3 separate regions of the Homo sapiens genome follow, and all the other regions are linked to region 1. Evidence: fine-mapped expression QTL. A gene starts in region 1. Each other region holds a variant in brackets. All regions are shown on one strand. Distances are from middle to middle.

What was found. PIP is the estimated chance that this variant, and not a neighbour inherited with it, causes the effect.
Region 2: its variant is the best candidate, but not a certain one, in a credible set for the expression of FBXW2 in whole blood (TOPMed, PIP 0.64).
Region 3: its variant is the best candidate, but not a certain one, in a credible set for the expression of FBXW2 in whole blood (TOPMed, PIP 0.71).

Annotation. Positions count from the first base shown.
Region 1 is chr9:120,789,617-120,797,802 of GRCh38, forward strand. It overlaps FBXW2 (F-box and WD repeat domain containing 2), which reads right to left and starts at 3,800. Exons shown (of 8, transcript NM_012164.4): 1 at 3,738-3,800; 2 at 3,533-3,641. It overlaps B3GALT9 (beta-1,3-galactosyltransferase 9), which reads left to right and starts at 3,851. Exons shown (of 3, transcript NM_001386823.1): 1 at 3,851-4,306; 2 at 6,807-6,993. The coding sequence starts at 6,988. RefSeq lists enhancers at 3,501-4,131, 4,194-4,293, 4,724-4,813.
Region 2 is chr9:120,625,918-120,634,103 of GRCh38, forward strand. All of the region lies in intron 2 of MEGF9 (multiple EGF like domains 9), which reads right to left. Among named protein-coding and RNA genes, the nearest start is that of CDK5RAP2, 50 kb to the left of the region's middle. The variant C/T (reference allele first, on the strand shown) is at 4,283.
Region 3 is chr9:120,738,014-120,746,199 of GRCh38, forward strand. No RefSeq gene overlaps it. Among named protein-coding and RNA genes, the nearest start is that of MEGF9, 28 kb to the left of the region's middle. The variant T/C (reference allele first, on the strand shown) is at 3,596.

The sequences.
Region 1 (8,186 bases):
CTGTCATATTAATTTTAAAAACATATGTCCAAATTAATGTGAAAAAGGAAAGTTAATTTCTTTCCAGACATATCACCTAGATCAGGTCTACACAAAAAGCAAGATCTCATCTTTCAACTTTGATAATGTAAGGTGAGTAAAATTGTAAGTGTCCAATATCAAATTTGGCAATAACATTCTTAGACAAATAAGCAATCTGATTTATTAGTAGAAGCAACCAAACCTTGCAATCACATCATCTGCTAACAGTTTTGATTTCTGGAACTGTGACTAGACTTCAAGATAATACGTTTCAAGCCAAAGTTTGGGCTAGAGAAGATTTATTAATCTGTATTAAAAATTTACCTAGCTGACAAAAAATAATCAGATGGCTAAAAGTTTTATCGACTTATCACGCAATAACAAGCCCCCTCCTTCCTCTAAATCCTAACAACCCTCTTATCTATACAACATTTCTTCAAAATCTCTACTTCTAAAAAATAATAATTTGCAACAAGACAAAGCAATTATCTTCTGTGGGCATCTGCATATTGTCACAATAGCTAGTTAATTAATACTGGTCAATTAAAAACACACACCAGGCTGGGCACAGTGGCTCACGCCTGTAATCACAGCACTTTGTGAGACTGAGGTGGGCTCGGCCGGATCACGAGGTCAGGAGATCGAGATCATCCTGGCTAACACAGTGAAACCCCATCTCTACTAAAAATACAAAAAATTCCCCTGGCATGGTGGTGGGTGCCTGTAGTCCCAGCTAGTCGGGAGGCTGAGGCAGGAGAATGGCGTGAACCCAGGAGGCGGAGCTTGCAGTGAGCCGAGATCACGCCACTGCACTCCAGCCGGGGCGAGAGAGCAAGACTCCATCTCAAAAAAGAAAAAAAAGAAAAAAAACCACACACCTGCTCCTGAAACATTTTTAACAGTGAAAAGTGTGGTGTGGCAAGCTTCCTCCATCACATCTACACATACATATATACACACATACATACACATGCTGACACACATCTATTGTAGAAATGCTTGTATTTAAGTGAGCTGAACTGTTATTCAAACGGCTACAAGGCAAATTTAGAATACTCATTAAAATATTATCAGGTTCCCATCATTCACAAATATCTAAGAGACATACTATAATATGCCAAATTCACATGTATACCTATGTAACAAACCTGCACGTTGTGCACATGTACCCTAGAACTTAAATTTAAAAAAAAAATGCCAAATTAATGTGCCCATGACACCGCTAAAGATTACGGAAGAAGCTTTTTCAGAGAGCACATCTAAAAAAATTCAGCCATGTCTCAGATTTATATATTCTCCTAACTCTTAATAAAAAAAATTTTCCCAACTCTTAGATTGCCTTTTAAACCACTCAATCCCTTGTAAGATTGAGCAGTTCACCTCTGATTATTCTGAAAAAGGCATTTTTTTCCCTAAAAAAGCAAGTCTCACTAACTGCAGAATGCACTATTTAAAAAACACCAATTTTTACTTTTCTGAACAGATCAACTAACTTTGGAGGGGGCCTTCTAAGGTAACAGGTCTAAACTGGACTCTTTTAGGCAGCCTCTAGAAATATCATACACTGGTTGCACAAACCTCAGGAAATGGGATTTCAATTCAACATGAGGAGCTTTTAAATCTCAGCGCTTTCCAACAATGGAATAGCTACCTCCAGAGTAGTGAGTTTCCCATTACCACGAACAGTCAAGGACAGTTGGACACAGAGGCAGAATGTGATAAATGAAAATACTTTGGAGGTTGGCCAGATGTTTTACTGATTCAGCCACTTCCTATGTGATTATGGGCATGTCCAACTAACTTTTAAGCTTCAGTTTTATCATCTGTAAAATGGAAGCCATCATCCAACTTGAAGGGTGAAACTCAGAAATATAGCAGGGACATGCTTAGCACAGTGTACAGTCTAGCGGGTAAAAACTCAAATGGTACTTTTTGTTAGTTTTACTACTATGAACACCTGGCAGTAAAGATTTCTGTGACACTAAGGGTGGAATGGACATGACCACTAACATCTCTTTTGACCCTATCATCTTATCACTAAGTTTCTCTTCAAAATACCTGGAAGAAAAACTCAAGGGCTCAAACTTACTAGGGGTTTAATTTTATAAAGAAGAGCACCTGTTTATTGGAGGCTCTAGTTTCCCAGTAGGTGCCTTATTCTACCCACATTCCCTGCTGTTTGGCCCCCTTACCCTACGTCCCTACCCCAGAGTTAACATTCAACTTGCCCTCTTGCCTTCAGTATCAATAATCACAAAGTGGGTCATGCAACAAAAAGACTCCTAAATTGGAAAATGAGAGCCTGGGTTTGGTCTCAGGTTCTGCCATTAACTCCCTATGTTACCTAGGCAACTCACATATTTATATTGGTTTTAAAGAAAAAGTACCACTGGTAAACATTATCTCATTTCATCTTCATAACCTCATGGAAGGTATCAGTAATGCCGCCCTTAACTAACATTAATGAGGAAATTTACGGCTCAAGAAGTGGAGTGGCCTTCCCAGAATGGCACAGGAAGTAGCAGGCTCAATATTTTGCCCAGTACCCATTCTCCCAAAACCTATACTCAGAGGTATTAGAGACAGGACCTTCTGGAAAACAGTGTAAATGTGTTTTCCCCTCCTCCTCTATCAGAACCTGGCCTAGTCAAGAGTGAAAGCAACATAATTGTTAGTGGTAGAGGGAAGGAGGCTTCATTTCCCCCTTTTCTTATCAAACAAAGAGCACAGAGGCGCTGAAAATGTATACACACCTATAAACTTACATATGCATAAAATGTATTCTGAATATTCAAGAAACTGATAACCCTGGTTGCCTCCAGAGAGAACTGGAGAGCTGCAGAATAGGAATGAGGGGTCCCTTTTTATTGTATACCTTTTAAAACTGAAAACCATGTTAAGTATAATATACTATCAAAAAATAGCCTTTAGTTTTAAGGTGAATTTTTTTAAAGCTTTGAAAGAATACAAATAATGTTTATAAAATATGTGTTCTGCAACTCCACTTGTTGCTGGGTGACCTTGGGCAAATCACTTCACCTGTCTCATGCCCTGTTTCCTCACTTGTAAAATACAGCCAAGAGCATTACCTACAAGGGTTTTTATGAGGGTTAAACAAGACAGTGCAAGTAAAGCGTTTAGCACAGTACTCGGCACGCTGTAAGCCTACAGTAAATGTCAGTTACCATTATTACTTAGCATTAATATTGTTATCTTTGCTTTACTTCAAGCAGCACCCCACATACACACCTGTTTTCATGGCATACCCACAATTATGGCGCAGTATAGCGCTTTGTACTTCATAAACCACCTCATCACACTTCATCGTCTTTCAAACGTTTGGTAGCCCTGGGACATCACTGTTAACTCATTTCGCAGCTAAGGAAATGGAGGCAGTAGGAGGCAGTAACTCCAAAACCCTGTTTTCCCGTCTCTAAAATCCAGATCCCATCAACCCATTCGTTGCTCCCAGGTCCCTTGCTCTCGGAATCGTGTTCCGCGCGGCACTGACCTGAGCGAGCGCCCCGGGGCCCGGGACCTCGCGCCGGGTTCACAGCTACTAGGCACGCTCGGACCGCCAGAGCCTTGCAGCGGCCGGGTCCGCTCCGCAGCCATGGCGCCTGCAGGGAAAGAAAAACAGCCAAGGCGCGGCGGGTCAGCAGAGCCGCGGGCGCCTAAGAGTCCCCTCCCCGACCGGCCCCGCCTCGCATACAGACCCGGACCTGCGGCCGCTGCTCCCGGTCCGCAGCCTCACAGGGGAGCGGCTTCCGGTGCTGCCTGCGTCATCTCCGCGCGTCCCTCAGCTCCGCGGCTCCCGGCGGAAGCGGCTGCACTTCCGGTCCCCGCCCGGAGGTGGGTGGTGGGAGGCTGGAGGCCGGGAGTAGGGGTGGGGAGAAGAGCGTCCCGGGAAGCTGAACGCGTGCCGCGCGGCCCTCACGGTGCTTAGGCTGGGTGCAACCTAGAACGGAGGTTCCTTTCGTACCGTACATCCAGGTTTGCACAGCGCGCTTATGTCCCTCCTCCAATCTGATCTTGCACCAGCTCTGCAGTAGTTTTTCTTATTATCCTCATTTTACGGAGGAGAGGGAGCTGTGGCTTAGAGAAGTTAAGAGACGTGTCCAAATTCATACAACCTGTTGGGCACCTCTTTATCCCGAACGCTGTTCTAGGGGATAGGGTTAGTGAACAAAAAACGCAAAAGCCCCTGACCGCCTGGGCCTTACATCTATTAGGAGGAGGAAGACAGATAAACTAAGGCTCGTGCAAAGGAGAAAAATAAAGCAAGGTAAGGAGGTTGTTGAATGAAAAGAGACAGTCAAGTGATGTAGATTTGAATGAATCACAACGTTTACACTCTGGCTGTGGCCCGGTTACTTAACCTCTCAGACTTTGCTTCATCTGCATAGCAATTATAGTGAGGTCCCCATCCGAAGGCTCTGAGGATTGAAGGAAATGAAGCATGCAAACCTTTTGGCGTCAAGAACTAAAACTGAGCTAAAAAATCCCACGCACTCTTTCTCAACATTTTTTGTGTACCATCTCACTCAGTTCCCACAACAACCCCACAAGCTAGTAACTATTATTAGGCCCCTTTTTAGAGATGGGGAAACTGAAATCAAAAGAGGTTTAGGCATCTTGCCTAAGGTCATAGTAAATGGCTGTCATAGGATTTCAACCCAAACCGACTTCAGAGCACAAGTTATCCTTTTTTTTTTTTTGAGGCAACGTATCACTCTGTCGCCCAGGCTGGAGTACAGTGACACGATCTTGGCTCACTGCAGCCTCGACTTCTCCAGGCTCAAGCGATCCTCCCACCTCAGCCTCCTGAGTAGAAGGGACCACAGGCGCGTGTCACCATGCCCAGCTAGTTGTGTGTGTGTGTGTGTGTGTGTGTGTGTGTGTGTGTGTGTATTTTTGTAGAGTCAGGGTTTCGCTATGTTACCCAGGCTGGTCTTGAACTCCTAGGCTCAAGTGATCCACCTGCCTGGGCCTCCCAAAAAGTGCTGGGATTACAGGGGTGAACCACAATGCCCAGCGCACAAGTTATCCTTGTTTCTCTGTAAGGGTTCCTAAGCCATACATGCATACACGCACATTCACATACATCTTATACCAACACTGTCCAATAAGCTTTTTGCCAGTGATGGAGTTGTTCTGTTGGTGCTGTCCAATAAGGCAGTCACTAGTCTCTTGTGGCTACTGAACATTTGAAAAGTACCTGATGTAAATGAACTAAATTCTTAATTTTATTTAATTTTAATTTAATAGCCACATGAGGCTAATGGCTACCATGCTTGATAGCACAGTCCAATAATATAGACAATAAGAGAGACACATATCCAGTAGATGGTAGAGCATGGCCAAGGTTCCAAGCATCCTGACTTCATTTAGGGTACTTGAAACATGGGAAATAAAAATTGATTATGTGGGGTGGAAGTCAACTACGGTGTCCTAAAAGTAAGGTCTCAAGAGAGCAAATTTGATTTGCTAAGCAACAGGATGTCACTCTAGACTTCTAAGTCAGAACGTGACTGATCACAGCATTATAAGACATTTAGGAAGACAGATATACAGATTGGATACTCTCTATGAAAGGGAAGGCAGTACCAGGGTAATCAAGAAAATCAAGCACCCATATCTCTTTGGAGCAAACATTCTCAACCCCAGTACAGTTTGATGAATCAAATTGAAAAGTCCAGATGGAGCTGCCCCAGAGATAATATTGTTTGGACCTCTCATAACAAAGAAACCAAATTGTGCAAATTTAAGCCCAGAGGGGATCCAGGAGCAAAATTCATGACTATAAAAAAATTTTTAAATTGCAAAGTGGACGTAATATTTAATTAAATACAAGACCTATTGAATTGTTAAATTCAGAATATGTAAAAATTCCCTTTCATTTGATATTTTTAGGTTAGATTTTTCCCACTTTGTAAAGATTTTCAAGATTGTATGATGGTTGCTGAGAAAACATAGCCAACTTTAAATATAAGAAGTTATTCCTGGCCAAATAATTACAAAAGCTGTTGTAAATGGCAGATAGGAAGATCAACATGTTGGATGTTGAAGGAAAGGACGAAATATAGCCTGGCATGAGAAAAGAATGCTCAGTATAATTGCTTGTGTGACAGGAACATGAAAATATGCTGAATGTTGTTTCTTTTCTCGAAATAAACTTGCTGGTAGAAATGATGTTTGGGATAATTCCTACACATGCATACTCCAGGAAAGGAGAAAACATCAAATGTTTAGTTTCTTCAATTCCGGCTAAAGTGGACTGTATGTTGTCTTCCATTTTGAGCTAAACTTGCCTGGGGAGGTAGTTTAGATGACTTAAAATTGATTTAGTAAAGTGCTTGCATAGCCAATACTAGGGATTCTGAATCCTTCCCAATGAGCCATACACCAGACCTCACCATATGATGTTTCTTTGGGAGAAAATAATGCACCCACTAGGGATGAAAAATCTTCCTCTATGTCTAGTACAGTTTTTGCATGTGTATGTACCAGGGAGCAGGCATTACTCCAGCTGTTTGGTTTCTTGAGATGCACTCCAAAAAAAAGTATAGGATATATCTACTTGTGCAATGATGCTATGGAGAAGTGATCTGGGTAACTGTTCTTTGAACTTCCACACACACTTTACCAGGAACTCAGCATAAAGACATGGGGTCAGTTTCATGAAGTACACAGGGTTGGAAGCATTTGAAGAGGTTTGCTTTGTCTGTTCTTTGTTCTGGATTCACTCTAGCTGTAACATGATCAGCACCCACTCTCCTATGCAGTCAGCAGGTATTCTAGGATAAAAGCTCAGGTTGATTGGCAAGAAACCTTATCCTCAAAAGTTGAGGCACAAAGTACTTTACTGCAATTGCTGTTAGACTAGAGTGATCCTGAGATGCGTTTGGGCATAATTGGCACCTGGACTCAATAATTTCTAAGACCCTGAAGTTGCTCACAGGCAACATGCAAGTAAGTTTCTTACAATCTTTAAAGCATTTGATATCTAGTAAAATAGGCTTTGAGGAAGCTGAAATTTTTTTCTATGTGTAAATGAGAAAATGGAAAGGAGTTCAGATTATAATTGCTGGGTTTTTTTTGTTTTGTTGTGTTTTTTGACTGTTTAAAGGACATGGGGGCCAGGTGCGGTGGCTCACGCCTGTCATCTCAGCACTTTGGGAGGCCGAGGCAAGCGGATCACCTGAGGTCAGGAGTTCAAGACCAGCCTAGCCAATATGGTGAAACTCCGTCTCTACTACAAATACAAAAATTAGCTGGGAGTGGTGGTGCATGCCTGTAATCCCAGCTACTTGGGAGGCTGAGGCAGGAAAATCACTTGAACCTGGGAGGCGGAGGTTGCAGTGAGCCAAGATCATGCCACTGCAGTCCAGCCTGCGCCACAGAGTGAGACTCTGTCTCAAAAATAAAGAGAAAGAGAGAGAGCAAGGAAGAAGGGAGGGAGGGAGGGAGGGGGAGACAGAGGGAAAGAGAGAAAGAAAGAGAAAGAAAGAAAAGAAAGAAAGAGAAAGAAAGAGATAAGTAAAGATAGGAATTGTGATTCTCCAATGGTTAAGAGCGAGCTTTGGGGCTGGGCACGGTGGCTCTCACCTGTAATCCCAGCACTTTGGAAGGCCGAGGCAGGTGGATCACCTGAGATCAGGAGTTTGAAACCAGCCTGGCCAACATTGCAAAACCCCATCTCTACTAAAAATACCAAAATTAGCCAGGCGTGGTGGCAGACGCCTGAAATCCCAGCTACTCAGGAGGCTGAGGCATGAGAATCCCTTGAACCCAGGAGGCAGAGGTTGCAGTGAGCCAAGATCGCACCACTGCACTCCAGCCTGGGTGACAGAGCGAGACTCCGTCTCAAAAAAAAAAAAAAAGAATGAGCTTTGGAATATGACAGATTTGAGTTCAAATCATGCCCTATCCCAACCTCTTACCCACTGTGATCCTGGGCAAATTACTAAACCATTAAGCTACTCAGATGCTCAGCTTAATTACGAAAATAACATATCTGAAAGGGATATTACCAGGGCTAAATGAATTAAGACACATAAAAGTGCTTATCGCAATGCCTGGCACAAAAGCAAGTGCATAATAGGAGGTAACAGTTATTATGGGAGGCTTTATTGATTGAAGATCCAATGAAAAGGGATTTAATT
Region 2 (8,186 bases), 160 kb before region 1:
AAAGACTTTACAACACTCCCTTTCATGGTCTCTCTCTGTTAAAGACTTGAATGCTTTCTGAAGCAAAGGTCAATGATATAAATGCAATGAAACCAAAAAAGAAAAAAAAAAGGCTGTGAACAGACCACTTATGCTTATCCATAGATTTGAAATGAAAGAACCAAAACCCACAGCTTCATAACTGGAGAATAAATGTGTAGAACTGGATTTTAAATAGAAATCAGACATCTGTACTATGAGATCAGCTAACAATTTAAGATAAAATTTGCTTATCTGGTCTTAATGACATGTTGCTAGTAAAGTACCAAGATAGCACAAAAATTATATCAGAAAAAAAAGAATATAGAATTATTCATAAACGAAGCATAAGCATTGTGGAGCTACGCTGCATTAAGTGTAACTATGCATATACTACACATTTCTTAAATTATCCCAAAAGGGATTCTCAGATTTTCTTGTGGTAGTAATGCTCAGTTATAGAACTTACATACTCATGGGTGTGAACAACTCCTGCAAGGTTTTAACACTTTAGAAAAAAGCATTTTTTAAGTGTATATAAATAAAAACATATTTTACAACACTAATAGTCATTACTTTTTCAAAAGAAAATTCACTGGTGTATCATCTCAAGATATGGTACATATCTATGTCACATGAATACAAGCCAAATTACCTTTTTAAAGACTCTGTTTAAGATGAGTGGGTGGAGAAGCTTCAGAATTTCCATTATTTTACAGTCACATTGATTAGGTGGGATGGGTATAATACAGGAAAGGAGTATCAGAGTTTATGGAAAAAACCAGCCCGAGGAAACAGAGTTTGGTTCATATTCCAGCTCTACTAGTGACTAGCTGGCACAAAGTATTCATTCTATCTTGGCCTCTGTATTCTCATTTGTTAAGTGAAGACAATTATACCAACCTTTGTAGTATATTAAAAATTGCATACACAATGCATTTAGCACAGTGTCTGGCACATACTCAGTACTCAAAAATGAAAGCAACTATGGACATGATGACAGTGATCCTAGATCTTAAATATTTTCTGAGAATTCTAAGGAAAGTAGGTTAGAATTCCCAGTTGGCAAAGACAGGGAAGACTAAGTTACTTACTTTTAAAATTTAAAATTTGTAAGTAATTTAAAATTTTAGAATTCTGTTAATAAAACTAAAAAAAAGCAAAACATTAAAGGATAATTACTAGTTTGTAGCAAAAATATGGCTAGAAAAAGAGAGCACATTATAAACACATGGTAGAAACAGTTTTGGGGGAAAAAATTTTAATCGAGAAGAGAAAGGATCTGCAAAATCCTACATTAGGTGGGATCAAAGCCAGCTGGACCTGACTTGCTTTTCTACCAACTAGTTAATGATTTATTTCTAAATTGTTAAATGTCTTGGCATGTTTTTTGTTATCAAGAAAGTCTATTTTCTTCCTAAGATTTACAAGATATAAAGTACGTGTGTATGTATATTTTTAGGTATCACATTATCAATTTTAACTCAAGCAGTTACAGAATAATTAAAAATTATACATAGTTCTTTCCTTTTTCTTTTTTTTGAGATGGAGTCTTGCTCTGTCACCCAGGTTGGAGTGGTGCAGTGGCACAATCTCGGCTTACTGCAACCTCCGCCTCCTGGGTTCAAGCGATTCTCCTGCCTCAGCCTCCCAAGTAGCTGGGACTACAGGCATGCACTATCACGCCCGGCTAATTTTTGTATTTTTAGCAGAAACAGAGTTTCGTCATGTTGGCCAGGCTGGTCTCGAACTCCTGACCTCAAGTGATCCACCCGCCTGGGCTTCCCCAAGTGCTGGGATTACAGGTGTGAGCCACTGCGCCCAGCCCATAGTTCTAATTAGAGAAAATTAATTCATTTGTGGTCATTTGGGAACTTTTGCTTTTCCCCTTTCCTTCTTCCTCAGACATTACACATGTTGACACTCTGACATGAAGACAATAAGAAACACAATTAAGAGATAATGAAATGTATCAATTTTCTTCTTCCTCCACTTTTAAAAATGAACTTAAAAATAACATTTTAAGCTATTTTTAAATAACTAAAAAACAATTTACTTTGGGAAGAGACTGAAACTAGTAATTAAAAGTCTGAAATCAGTAATACCAAACTGCTGATTATAAACTCGCTCAATATATTAAAATCGAACTTTAAAAGGTAGCTAGAAAAAGTTTTTCCAACTACAAAAAGGTTTTATATGGAAAAATAAAATAAAACGTTATTAAAAATTCTTAATTTCATGTCTGGGTCATGATTTTGTAGAGGTAAGAAAATAATAGTTTCTCCTCTTGTTAAAAGAAACTTAATAATTGGACTTTCTGGCAAAAGATTATCTGAATTTAGTGTTCCTCTGTCTTTCCACAGTTATGGAAAAGATCATTATGCAATAAGCGAGGCTTCTGGAGGAAAAAAAGGATAGCTTTATTGTTGAAAACATTGGGCTATTATGCTAAACATTCCTTGTATTTTTGAGGGCAAATAGTCTAAAATATGTTTAGAGGAAATCCATATTCAGACAGAAATTCTTGTCGTTGTTTTTTTTTTTTTTTTTTTTTTTTTTTCAGAGACAGAGGACAGTTTATTCCTCCAAACAAAAGCAGTAGCTAGAGTAGAGTATCAGCATTTACACCATGTCCCCAAACCTCAATTCCCAACGGTCATGCAACGAGGGCCAGTGATGCCTGCATATGAGGTGGGTTGTTACAGAAGAAGAACCCCAAACTCAGAGAATCCAAATCTTTTATAATGGACAGTGAGCTTACCTGATCTTTGCCCAGGAGGGAGACTTTATTTTTATTATATTGGACAGTGGCAAATCTGTTCTTTACTCCAGAGGAAGATATTAGCTCTATTTTCCAAGGCAGTTTGCTATGCAAATATCCTTGAATAAATAGTCCAGAACAAGGCAGTGCCTCTGCTTGCAAAAGCACAAGAGATCTTTAGAGAATTGTCTTGAAACAATAACCACCTCTCAATGATACAATCTCATAGCCTCTGAAAACTTTTCTCATGAGTACAACACTCCAGTCATGATGACTTTGTTTTGTTTTTTGTTTTTTGATACAGGGTCTCACTGTGTTGCCCAGGCTGGAGTGCAGTGGTGCGATCACAGCTCACTGCAGCCTCAACCTCCCTGGCTCAAGATATCCTCCCACCTCAATCTCTTGAGTGTGGAACTACAGGCATGTGCCACCATGCCTGGATAACTTTTTGAAATTTATTTTTTGTAGAGACAGGTTCACATTATATTGTCCAGGCTGGTCTCAAACTCCTGGGCTCAAGCAATCCTTCAGCCTTGTTCTCCCAAAGTGCTGGGATTACAGGTGTGAGTCACTGTGCCTGGCCCAGTCATGATGATTAATCTGAACAACAGAGCCAAATCCTGCCTGAGACACATTTTAAATAAACTTTTATTGGAACACAGGCTAGGTGCAGTGGCTCATGCCTGTAATCCCAGCACTTTGACAGGCCAAGGAAGGCAGATCACTTGAAGCCAGGAGTTCGAGACCAGCCTGGCTAACATGGCAAAACATCGTCTCTACTAAAAATACAAAAATTAATGGCATGGTGGCACACGGCTGTAATTCCAGCTACTCGGGAGGCTGAGGCATGAGACTTGCTTGAATCTGGGAGGCGGAGGTTGTTGCAGTGAGGCAAGATTGTGCCACTGCACTCCAGCCTGGGTGACAGAGTGAGACAGTCCCCAAAAAAATTTTTGGCTGGGTGCAGTGGCTCACATCTGTAATCCCAGCACTTTGGGAGGCCAAGGAGGATGGACCACCTGAGGTCAGGAGTTCAAGACCATCCTGGACAATATGGTGAAACCCGTCTCTACTAAAAATACAAAAATTAGCTAGGCGTGGTGGCACGCACCTGTAGTCCCAGCTACTCGGGAGGCTGAGGCAGGCGAATTGCTTGAACCTGGCAGGTGGAGGTTGCAGTGAGCTGAGATCGCATCACTGCACTCCAGCCTGGGCAACAGAGTGAGACTCCGTCTCAAAAAAAAAAAAAAGAAAAGTTTTATTGGAACACAGTCATTAATTTACGTATTGTCTATGGCTATTTTCACTCTTTAATGGTACAGTTCAGTATACCTTGACCATCCGCCCATTGCTGAGTAGCCTTTTTTGCTATTATTTTTAACTGACAAATAACAATTGTACATATTTATGGGGTACAGTGTGGTATGTCAATACAAAGCCTATATGTATACTTTCATATCTGTTAACCAACCTTTGGCTATCTTCCCCTCCCACCTTTTCTAC[C/T]TTTAATAACCACTATTCTACTTTCTACTTCTATGAGATCAACATTTTTAGTTCCCACATAAGTAGGAACATGCAGTATTTCTGCATCTGTCTGACTTCACTTAAGATAATGTTCTTCAAGTTCATCCATTGTGCCATGAATGATAGAATTTCATTCTTTTTTATGGCTAACTAGTGTTCCATTGCACACATTTTCTTTAGCCACTCTTCTGGTGATGGACACAGAGGTTGATTCTGTATCTTGGCTATTGTGAAGTGCTGCAATAAACATGGGCATGCAAATATCTCTTTGGCATACTAACTTCCTTTCCTATAGATATACACCCAGTAGAGGGATTGTTGGATCATATGATAGTTCTATTTTTAGTTTTCTGAGGAACTTCCATACTGTTTTTCATAATGGCTGTGCTAATTTACATTTCCACTAGAACAGTGTATAAGAGTCCCCTTTTCTCTGCATCTTTGCCAGCATGTATTCTTTGCCTTTTTGATAACAGACATTCTAATGGGGGTGAGATGACATCTCATTGTAGTTTTGATTTGTACTTCTCTGATGATTAGTGATGTTGAGTACTTTTCATTTGTATGTTTTTGTTTGAGAAATGTTAATTCAGCTCCTTTGCCCATTTTTAAAATTATTTGTTTACTGGTTGTTGAGGTGTTTGAAGATATCTGGATATTAGTCTCTTTCAGATGAATAGTTTGCAAATATCTTCTCCCATTCTGCATATTGTCTTTTCACTCTGTTGATTGCTGCCTTTGCTGTGCAAACGTTTTTTAACTGGATCCGATCCCATTTGTCTATTTTTGCTTTTATTGTCTGTGCTGATGAGGTCTTCACAAAATCTCTGCCCAGAGCACTGCCCTGAAACATTTCTTCTATGTTTTCTGCCAGTAGTTTCATAGTTTTCAGTCTTGCATTTAGTTCTTTAGTCAATTTGGAAACGATTTTTGTATATGGTGAGAGATAAAGGTCTAGTTTCATTTTTCTGCATATGGATATCCAGTTTCCCCAGCACCACTTATTGAAGAGACTGTCCCATTCTCAATGAATGTTTTTGGCACCTCTGAGAATCAAGTGGCTGTAAGTATGTGGATTCATTTCTAAATTCTTTATTCCATTCCATTAGTCTATGTGTCTGTTTTTATGCCAGTACCATGTTGTTTTGGTTACTAAAGTTTTGTAGTATATTTTGAAGTCCAGCAGTGTGTTGCCTCCAGCTTTGTTCTTTTTGCTCAGAATTTGAGTATTTGAGGTCCCCTGTGGTTCCATATGAATTTGATTGCATTTTTTTTTTTTTCTGAGATGGAGTCTTGCCCTGTCACCCGGGCTGGAGTGCAGTGGTGCAATCTCAACTCACTGCAACCTCCACCTCCCAGGTTCAAGCAATTCTCCTGCCTCAGCCTCCTGAGTAGCTGGGATTACAGGTGTGCACCACCATGCCTGGGTAATTTTTGTAATTTTAGTAGAAATGGGGTTTTGCCATGTTGGCCAGGCTGGTCTTGAACTCCTGACCTTAAGTGATCTGCCAGTCTCAGCCTCCCAAAGTGCTGGCATTACAGGTATAAGCCACTGTGCCCGGCCCTGTATTTTCTATTTCTGTGAAGAATGCCATAGATATTTTGATAGGGATAGCATTAAATCTGTAGATCACTTTTGGTAGTATGGTTATTTTCACAATATTAATTCTTCTTCTCCTTCTCCTTCCTCACCTTCTCCTTCTCCTTCTCCTCCTCCTCTTTTTTTGAGATGGAGTCTCACTCTGTCGCCAGGCTGGAGTGCAGTGATGCGATCTCAGCTCACTGCAACCTCCACCTCCCAGGTTCAAGTGATTTGCCTGCCTCAGCCTCCTGAATAGCTGGGACTATAGGTGCATGCTACCACGCCCAGCTAATTTTTGTATTTTTAGTAGAGACAGGTTTCACCATATTGGCCAAGATGGTCTTGATCTCTTTACCTGGTGATCCACCCACCTCGGCCTCCCAAGAACCCAGACCACAATATGAATTCTTTCAACCCATAAACATAGAATATCTTTTAATTTTTTAAATGTCCTAATCAATTTCCTTTCATCAGTGTTTTATAGTTTTCCTTGTAGAAATCTTTCATATTCTTGGATAAATTTATTCCTAAGTGTTTTTTTTTTTTTTTGGAGCTATTTTAAATAGGATTGGTTTTTTAAATTTCTTTTTCCACTATTTCACTGTTGCTGTGTAAAAACAGCACTGATTTTTTATGTTGATTTTGTGTCCTCCAACTTTACTGAATTCATTTATCAGTTCTAAGAGCTTTTTGGTGGAGCTTTTAGGGTTTTCTATATAAAAGATCATGTCATCTGCAAACAGACAATTTGATTTCCTCCTTTCCAATTTGGATGCCCTTTATTTCTTTCTCTTGCCTAATTGCTCTGGCTAGCACTTCTGGTATTATGTTGAATAGGAGTGGTGAAAGTGGGCATCCTTGTCTTTTTCCAGTTCTTAGGGGAAAGGCATTCACCTTTTCCCCACTCTGTATGATGCTGGCTGTTGGTTTGTCATATTGGCCTTTATTATTCTGAGGTACGTTTCTTCTGTCTATTTTTTGAGTGTTTTTATCACGAAGGAATGTTGAATTTTATCAAATGCTTTTTCTGCATCCACTGAGATGATCATGTGGTTACTGTCCTTCATTCTGTTGATTGATGTATCACGTTTATTGATTTGCATGTGTTGAACCACCCTTGCATCCCTAGTATAAATCCCACTTGATCATGGTGTATTTTCTTTTTAATGTGTTGTTGGATTTGGTTTGCAAGTATTCTGTTGGGGATTTATGAGCCTATGTTATTCAGGGATATGGGCCTGTAGTTTTCTTTTTTGTGTTGTGTCCTTGTCTGGTTTTGGTATCAGGGTGATGCTAGCCTTACAGAATGAGTTAGGGAGAATTCCCTTCTCTTTGATTTTTTGGAATAGTTTCAGGAGGATTAGTATTAGTTCTTCTTCATATGTTTGGTAGAATTTGGCTATGAATGCAACCAGTGGGCTTTTCTTTATTGGGAGGCTTTTTATTGCTGATTCAATCTCATTACCTGTTACTGGGCTGTCCAGGTTTTCCATTTCTTCCTGATTCAGTCTTGGTAGCTTGCATGTTTCCATACAAGCAGAATTTATCCATTTTCACTAGGTTTTCAGATTTCTTGGCATACAGTTGTTTGTAATAGCCTCTAATGATCCTTTGTATTTCTGTGGCATCAGTTGTAATGTCCTCTTTTTCATTTCTGATTTTATTTCTTTAGGTTTTTTCTCTTTTTTTCTTGGTTAGTCTAGCTGATGGTTTCTCAATTTTGTTTATCTTTTCAAAGCCAACTTTTTATTTAGCTGATTTCTTGTATTGCTTTTTAGTCTCAATTTTAAAATTTTTGCCCTAATCTTTATTATGTCTTTCCTTCTGCTAATTTTGAGTTTTGTTTTTTCTGGCTTTTCTAGTTCCTTAAGCTGGATCATTAGGTTGTTTATTTGAAATTTTGCTAGTTTTTTAATACAAGTGTTTATTGCTATAAAGTTTCCTTTTGATACTGTGTTTGCTCTATCCCATAGCATGGTATGGGATGTTGCGTTTCTATTTTCATTTGCTCCAAGAAATTTTAAAATTTCCTCATTGATCCAGTGGTCATTCAGGAGTATATTAATTTTTGTGTATTTGTATAGCTTTCCAAAGTTCCTCTAATTGTTGATTTCTAGTTTGATTCCATTACAGTCAGAAAAGATACCTGATATAATATTAATTCTTTTAAATTTGTTAAGACTTGTGTTGTAGTCTAACATGTGGTCTATCCTGGAGAATGTTCTATGTGCTATTGAAAAGAAAGGATGTACATTTTGTAGCTTTTGGATTAAATGTTCTGTCAACGTCTGTTAGGTCCAT
Region 3 (8,186 bases), 52 kb before region 1:
GTGGGTTCTAGGAGAGGGCCCGCTCAGGAGAAAGGAAGGCTCCCCTCCCACGTGACGAGGGGAAGCTGAAGTCACTGTTGCCTTCCCTAGATTTTGAAGGTCCTGACTCCCTAGGTCCCCAGGGAGTGGGTCATAGCTAGGCTGTATAATGGTGACGAGAATTGTGGACCCAAGTCATCCTGGTGGCTGTGGAACCAGTTGTTCATGAAGATAGTGGGTGAACTGTTGTGATGAGTACCTTCCAAACTTCCTGTGTGTGGTGCTGGGGTCTCTTGCCAACGTCCAATACCTAGGACAAATGCTGACTTCTCAGAGTGCCACCTGGCACTGTACTTTCCAGAGTAGTCATTGCAACTACATTCAACAGCAGTAACTGTGAATCCATTCAATTGAACCAATAATGTGAAACTGTTATTTATTTATTTATTTATAAGATGGAGTCTCACTCTATTGCCCAGGCTGCAGTGCAGCGGTGCCATATTGGCTCATCGAAACCCGGGTTTTGAGCAATTCTCCTGCCTCAGCCTCCCAAGTAATTGGGATTACAGGTGTCTGCCACAACGCTCAACTAATTTTTGTATCTTTAGTAGAGACGGGGTTTCACATGTTGGCCAGGCTGGTCTCCAACTCCTGACCTCAAGTGATCCACCTGCCTCGGCCTCCCAAAGTGCTAGGATAAAGATGAAACCCACCACGCCCAGCCTGAAACTGTTTTTTAAAAGTATCCTTCCTGCCTGTAATCCCAGTACTTTGAGAGGCCAAGGGGGTGGATCACATGAGGCCAGGAGTTCGAGACCAGCTTGGCCAACATGGTGAAACCCTGTCTCCACTAATACAAAATTAGCTGGGCGTAGTGGCGTGCACCTGTAGTCCCAGCTACTCAGGAGGCTGAGGCAGGAGAATCACTTGGACCTGGGAGGCGGAGGTTGCAGTGAGCCATGATCACGCTACTGCACTCCAGCCTAGGCAACAGAGTGAGACCCTGTCTTAAAAAATAGAATAAAAATGGCCAGGCGCGGTGGCTCATGCCTGTAATCCCAGCACTTTGGGAGGCCGAGGCGGGCGGATCACGAGGTCAGGAGATCGAGACCATCCTGGCTAACATGGTGAAACCCCATCTCTACTCAAAATACGAAAAAAGAAAAAAAAAATTAGCCGGCCGTGGTGGCGGGCGCCTGTTGTCCCAGCTGCTCGGCAGGCTGAGGCAGGAGAACGGCGTGAACACAGGAGGCGGAGGTTGCAGTGAGCTGAGATCGCACCACTGCACTCCAGCCTGGGCGACAGAGTGAGACTCCGTCTCAAAAAAAAAAAGAATAAAAATAAAAAAATAAAAGTATGCTTCTTATTGTCATGATCATGTAAACCACAATCATTGCCATTAAAAGTACACAATGTAGCAAAACCAGTGATAACCTGTAGCCTTCAAAGTATTATTAATAAGAGAAATTTATCCTCAATGGAGCATGTTGGTTGGCAGCTTATTTTTTTGGATACTTATAGTTGTGATGTTTACGTTGTGATTTTGTATTTTGTATCGACCATAAATTATATTTTTTTATTTCTAAACCTTGTAAACAAAAAATATACTAACACAGAATTTTGTTAAAGTTTATATGAAGGAATATAAAAAAAAAACATTTTCTAGTATTCAGGAAAGTATATAGTAGCTTCCCAGTCCTCTGCTACCAGCTTCCAATCAGCTCCACAAACTGTGAAACTGTCCCTAAAATGTCCCCAGTCTTAGGGAGAAGTTTGAGATTATTAGGGTCACAGCTACACTGCTGTAACAAAGAGGCCCCAAAATATCGTGGGTGCAAAAACATCAAAATTAATTTTTCTCTTACAAAACAAAACAACCAGGCTGGATTGGTCAAGTGATGCCGCCATAAACAGATACAGTTTCAGCCAGGAGCGGTGGCACATGCCTGTAATCCCAGCACTTTGGGAGGCCGAGGCAGGTGGATCACCTGAGGTCAGGAGTTCAAGGCCAGCCTGGCCAATATGGCGAAACCCCGTCTCTACTAAAAATACAAAAATTAGCAGGGCGTGGTGGCGGACACCTGTAATCCCAGCTACTCGGGAGGCTGAGGCAGGGAGAATTGCTTGAACCCAGGAGGCGGAGGTTGCAGTGAGTCAAGATGATGCCACTGGGCTACAGAGCAAGACTCTGTCAAAAAAACAAAAAACAAAAAACAGGTAGTTTCCCTGTTGGTCTCCATCCCCTAAGGTGTCATTATTTGCTTAATCAAGGCTGGGTTGCTAACTCTGGGAAAGGAGGAAGAACCAACATTCCAGATAAGGAGCTTAAATCTGGAGATGACCCAGAAAATGTTCACATCACTTCCTTTCAATATTTGGTTAGTCCACACTTAACCACATGGTCACATCCAGCTGCACAGGAGTCTAGGAAATGTAGCCTGTAGCTGGGCAACTGTGCCCAGGAAGAGGGGAAGAATTTGGAGGAATAAGTAGCCATCTGCTACAGAGATTCTTTTTAATTTAAAAAATTTACAACATAAAAGAATTATATTACAATCCCATCATACAACTACTGACATTTTTCTATTGTTCTTTCCACATTTGAAACATGTGTGTTCCATGTATTTTTATAAAGTTGTAAAAATAGTATGTATGCAATTTTACATTCTACCAGAAATAAAACAGTATAATGAAAATAACATTAGATTCAAACAATGATATGCTATTTTTTTACCTATGACATTGGCAAGGTCTTTTAAAAAACCACAATAACCAGTGTTGGAGAGATCATGGGGAAATAGCCACTCAAACGTTACTCATGAGAGTGTACACATGTGTAACTTCACTTGGAGGGCAATTTGGTGATACATTTAAAAGTTTTGGCCAGGTTTGGTGGTGTACACCTGTATCCCCAGCTACACGGGGAGGCTAAAGCGGGAGGATGGTTTGAGCCCAGGAGTTTGAGGCTGCAGTGAGCTACGATCGCACGACTGCACTCCAGCCTGGGTAATGGAGGGAGACACTGTCTCAAAAAAAAAAAAAAAAAATTTACAATTTAACCTAAGGGGAAAAATGTAGAGATGTGGGTACAGATTTGTATAAAGGCTGGTTGTCGAAGCCTTACTTATGCTAAAAAATAGAACTAACCTAAATATCCAATGGGGATTGTTTAAATGAATTATGATTCAACCTTCCACAGAGATTAGAATCATGCTCTTGAAGAACACTGATGATGTAAAAAGTCTGCTAACATATTAAGTGAGAAAGCACATTACAAAATGGAATATATGTTCTGATAATTTTTGGTAAAAATTATCCATAGCTGTAAAGAGGACTAGAAGAATATTCACCCAAATGTCAACAGTGGTTCTTCTGGGTGAGTGCTATTGACAGCGGTTTTTACTTCCTTATTTACTCCTTTTGATATTTTTCAAATATTTGGCAATAGACATGTATTAGTTTTACAATAAAGGGGTTATTTAAAACACTGAATTAGACATACAGAATCCTAATACATTAGAGCAGAAATGATCCTTGAACTCCTTCATGTTTCAAATGGGGAAACTGAGGTCCAGAGAGGGTGAGTGACTTGCTAAAGTAACACAACTAGTTAGAA[T/C]TGAGATTTGAACTGAAGTAGTTTGTCTTCAAGGCTGGTGTTCTTATCACTATATAACTAAAAAAAAAAACAAAAAAAAACACCTTTTTTTTTCTTTTTCTTTTTGTAGTCAATGTTCTGCTGAATAAAAAGAACTTTTCTAAAAACAGCTTGACTCCTGGCAGCTTAGTCAGTGTTGAGGTACACAAAAAAACAAAGTGTCTGTAAGTCCTTGGAGAACTTAAAACAAAACAACTTAAAACATACACACACAACAAATTTCTGGTACATCCAGTGCTTATAAGGAAATATACATTGGGAAAACAAACATTCACACTGATAGAAACAGGATATGAGTGTCTCATTCATTCATTCAAAAAATATTTGTTGCGCACCTACTACATGCTGTTTTTAACACACTAGATCCTGGTAATCAATGGTAAACAGACATGATTCTCACTCTTCTGGTGCTTACAGTATTTAAATTCTGCTAATGTTTGTTGAACATCTACTATACACTTTACATATTTTTAAAGTTTTTTTCAATATAGAGATGGGGGTCTCACTATGTTGCCCATGCTGGTCTCAAACTCCTGGGCTCAAGTAATCCTCCTGCCTTGGCCTCCCAAAGTGCTGGGATTACAGGCATGAGTCACGACACCTGGCCAACGCTATACATTTTTTACAAACCTTTGTCATTGTACTATACCAATAATATTAACCCCCACTTTATGAGTTATAATTTAGCTACTAAGCATTGTAACTAGGCACTATTTCTAATCTTACAACAGCCCTATGAGATAGGTATCATTAACTCTATTTCACAGATGAGAGAACTAGAATCATAGATATTAAGTGGATTTCCCAAGATTACACAGACTAAGTGACAGATCTGTTTTCTAATGCTCATCTCATTGCCCTTAAACATAGGGTCCTCTTCCCACAACTGTAGCCTCAACCTCGAGCACCCACTCATTACAGAGGTTAAATAAAGGGCTAGGACTTAATGAATTTAGACCATTTCAGACTTATTGAACTTATTGGGATGGAGCCCAGGAATCTGCTATTCTTTTATTATTATTATTATTATTTATTTATTTATTTATTTGAGACGGAGTCTCGCTCTGTCGCCAGGCTGGAATGCAGTGGCGGATCTCACTGCAACTTCTGCCTCCCAGGTTCAAGCGATTCTCCTGCCTCAGCCTCCTGAGTAGCTGGGATTACAGGCATGCGCCACCATGCCCAGCTAATTTTTGTATTTTTAGTAGAGATGGGGTTTCACCATGTTGGCCAGGATGGTCTCGATCTCTTGACCTCGTGATCTGCCCGCTTCAGCTTCCCAGAGTGCTGGGATTACAGGCATGAGCAACTGCGCCCAGCCAAATCTGTCATTCTTGATAAGATCACTCTATAACTTGTATCTGTGCTAAAGTTCAGGGGCCACCGCCCTTATCTGTAACCTGGAATCCTACAATTCAATCTCCCATTAGAGAATGTATCCTTAGGTCTCAGGTGGAATGTACCAATTCTCAAATTCCACTAGGGGACAGTATAGGCCAATATGTCTAGACAAGTGGCACACTGTGGAAGACTGTGGAATCAATCACTGATGACATTCATTCATCCCTGGACCAACAGCGAGGGCTTGTCGGCTGCCAGGCACTGGGCTGAGCAAAGGTGGATGATTTCTGTAATGCTATTTACAAACTTAGAAAGCTGCTTTGGGGCCAGATGCGGTGGCTCAGGTCTGTAATCCCAGCACTTTGGGAGGCCGAGGTGGGTGGATCACCTGAAGTCAGGAGTTTGAGATTAGCCTGGCCAACATAGTGAGACCCCCATCTCTATATTGAAAAAACTTTTTAAAAATGTATAATGTATAGTAGATATCCAACAAACATCAGCAGAATTTAAATACTGTAAACACCAGAAGAGTGAGAATCATGTCTGTTTACCATGAATTACCAGGATCTAGTGTGTTGAAAACAGCATGTAGTAGATACGCAACAAATATTTTTTGAATGAATGAATCAATGAAGTACTCATATCTTGTTTCTATCAATGTGAATGTTTGTTTTCCAGTGAGCCGAGATCGTGCCACTGCACTCCAGCCTGGGCAACAGAGTGAGACTCCATTTCAAAAAAAAAAAAAAAGAAAGAAGGCTGCTGTGGAGTAATGTGGTATGTTGAAAAGCAGGACCACGGTGTTTTGTGGTTTCTCCCATCAAAAGGTAGATCTATTTCCTCACGCCTTGATTCTGGACTTGCTTTGACCAAGAGAACATGGTAGAAGTGACTTGCAGAGTTCCAGAGCCTAGACCTCAAGGTCTCACTGCTTCTCCCTTTGCTTTCTTGGGAGGCTTCTGGCATTGAGTTCAGAAGCCTAGGTTGAAAGGCCATGCAGAGAAGCCCAGCTGTCCCAGCTGAGGCCCCAGCCTCGTGGATAAAGCTGTCTTAGCCCACATATTCCCGGACCAGCCACCAGTGATTGTAAGCTGCCTGGTGAGCCCAGCAGACCCAGTCAACCCGCCAAATTGTGAAAAATAACAAATCATTATTTTAAGCCACTAAGTTTCAGAGTAGATTATTACACAGTAATAGATAACTGATAGACGCGGCCATGCACAGGGGATTTTTTAAATTAATTTAGCAATTCTTTAACTGAGTGCCTGCTTTGTACCAAGTATTGTATTATCTCACGTGTTAGGGATCTGTGCCTTGTGGAACAAGATAGAAAAAGCCCCCAGCCTCATATGGGCGAAGACGCACAATAAATTAGTAAATGGATAGATATACGGGGCAGTATAATACCATATGGAATAAGGGCTGTGAAGAAAAACAAAGTATGGAGTTCAAGAATGATTGAGGGTCGAGATCAGGTTCTTATAGACAGAGTGGTCATGGAAATCTTCTCTAGAAAGGTGAAATTTGAGGATAGCTGTGAGTACTGAGAAGGAGCAAAACCTGTGAAGATCCAGGAGAAACACTTCCATTTCAGGCAAATGGAACAATATCTAAAAAACTCCAAAGCGGGAAACATCTTAGTATACGCAGAGTACAGCCTGAAGGCCAGTGGGATTTGTTAAATGCAATGTTAAATGCAAATTAATACAAATTTGTTAAATGCAACTGTCAAATGTGAATTAATGGTTTAACTTGTTAGGCCGGGCATGATGGGTCATGCCTCTAATCCCAGCACTTTGGGAGACTGAGGGGGGCAGATCATGAGGTTAGGAGTTGGAGACCAGCCTGACCAACATGGTAAAACCCTGTCTCTACTAAAAATACAAAAATTAGCTGAGCGTGGTGGTGCGCACCCATAGTCCCAGCTACTCAGCAGGCTGAGGCAGGAGAATCGCCTGAACCTGGGAGGTGGAGGTTGCAGTGAGCCAAGGTAGTGCCACTGTACTCCAGGCTGGGTGACAGAGTGAGACTTCGTCACAAAAAAAAAAAAAAAAAAAAAAAAAAGTTTAACTTGTTAAACTGGTGTAAGATACCATTTTAACTTATTTAGGATTCCCTATACTTCAATTTTCTTAACACTAAGAACAGGGTCATGTCAGTCACTCACATTCACTGAATGCTAACTCAAATGAATATCATTCTAAACTATTTGTCAAAATATGTTTAAAAGTTCTTTATTTTTCTGGCTTTTGAATCAGTAAACTATTTTACACTTTTCTGTAGCTCTTATTGCCTTTAGTGTTACGATGCTCAGAATCTAATCTTCAGATCTAGACTACCTCATCAAAGAACACTACGGGAGAAAATATTTGCAAACTATACATCTGACAAAGGTCTAATATCCAGAATGTACAAAAAACTTAAACAACTGTGCATGCAAAAAACAAACAACCCCATTAAAAAGTGGGCAAAGAGTATGAACAGACACTTTCAAAAGAAGACACACATGCGGCCAACAGGCATATGAAAAAATGCTCAGTATCACTGATTGTTAGAGAAATGCAAATCAAAACCACAGCAAGATACCATGTCACACAGGTCAGAATGGCTATTATTAAAAAGTCAAGACCAGGCGCAGTGGCTCACACTTGTGATCCCAGCACTTTGGGAGTCCGAGGCGGGTGGATTACCTGAGGTCAGGAGTTCCAGACCAGCCTGGCCAAAGTGGTGAAACCCTGTCTCTACTAAAAATACAAAAATTAGCTGGGCAGGGTGGCGGCCGCCTGTAATCCCAGCTACTCGGGAGGCTGAGGCAGGAGGATTGCTTGAACCTGGGAGGCAGAGGTTGCAGTGGGCTGACATTGCACAATTGCACTCGAGCCTGGGCGACAAGAGCCAAACTCTGTCTTAAAAAAAAAAAAGTCAAAAAATAACAGATGCTGGCCAGGTTGCAGAGAAAAGAAAGCACTTATACGCTGCTGGTGGGAGTGCAAATTAGTTCAACCATTGTGGAAAGCAGTGTGGCAATTCCTCAAAGAACTAAAACCACAGCTACCATTTCACCTGGCAATCCCACAGCTGGATAGATATCTAAAGGAATATAAATTGTTCTACCATAAAGATAAATGCATATGTATGTTCATTACATCACTATTCATAATAGCAAATACATGGAACCAACCTAAATACCCATCAATGGCAGATTGGGTAC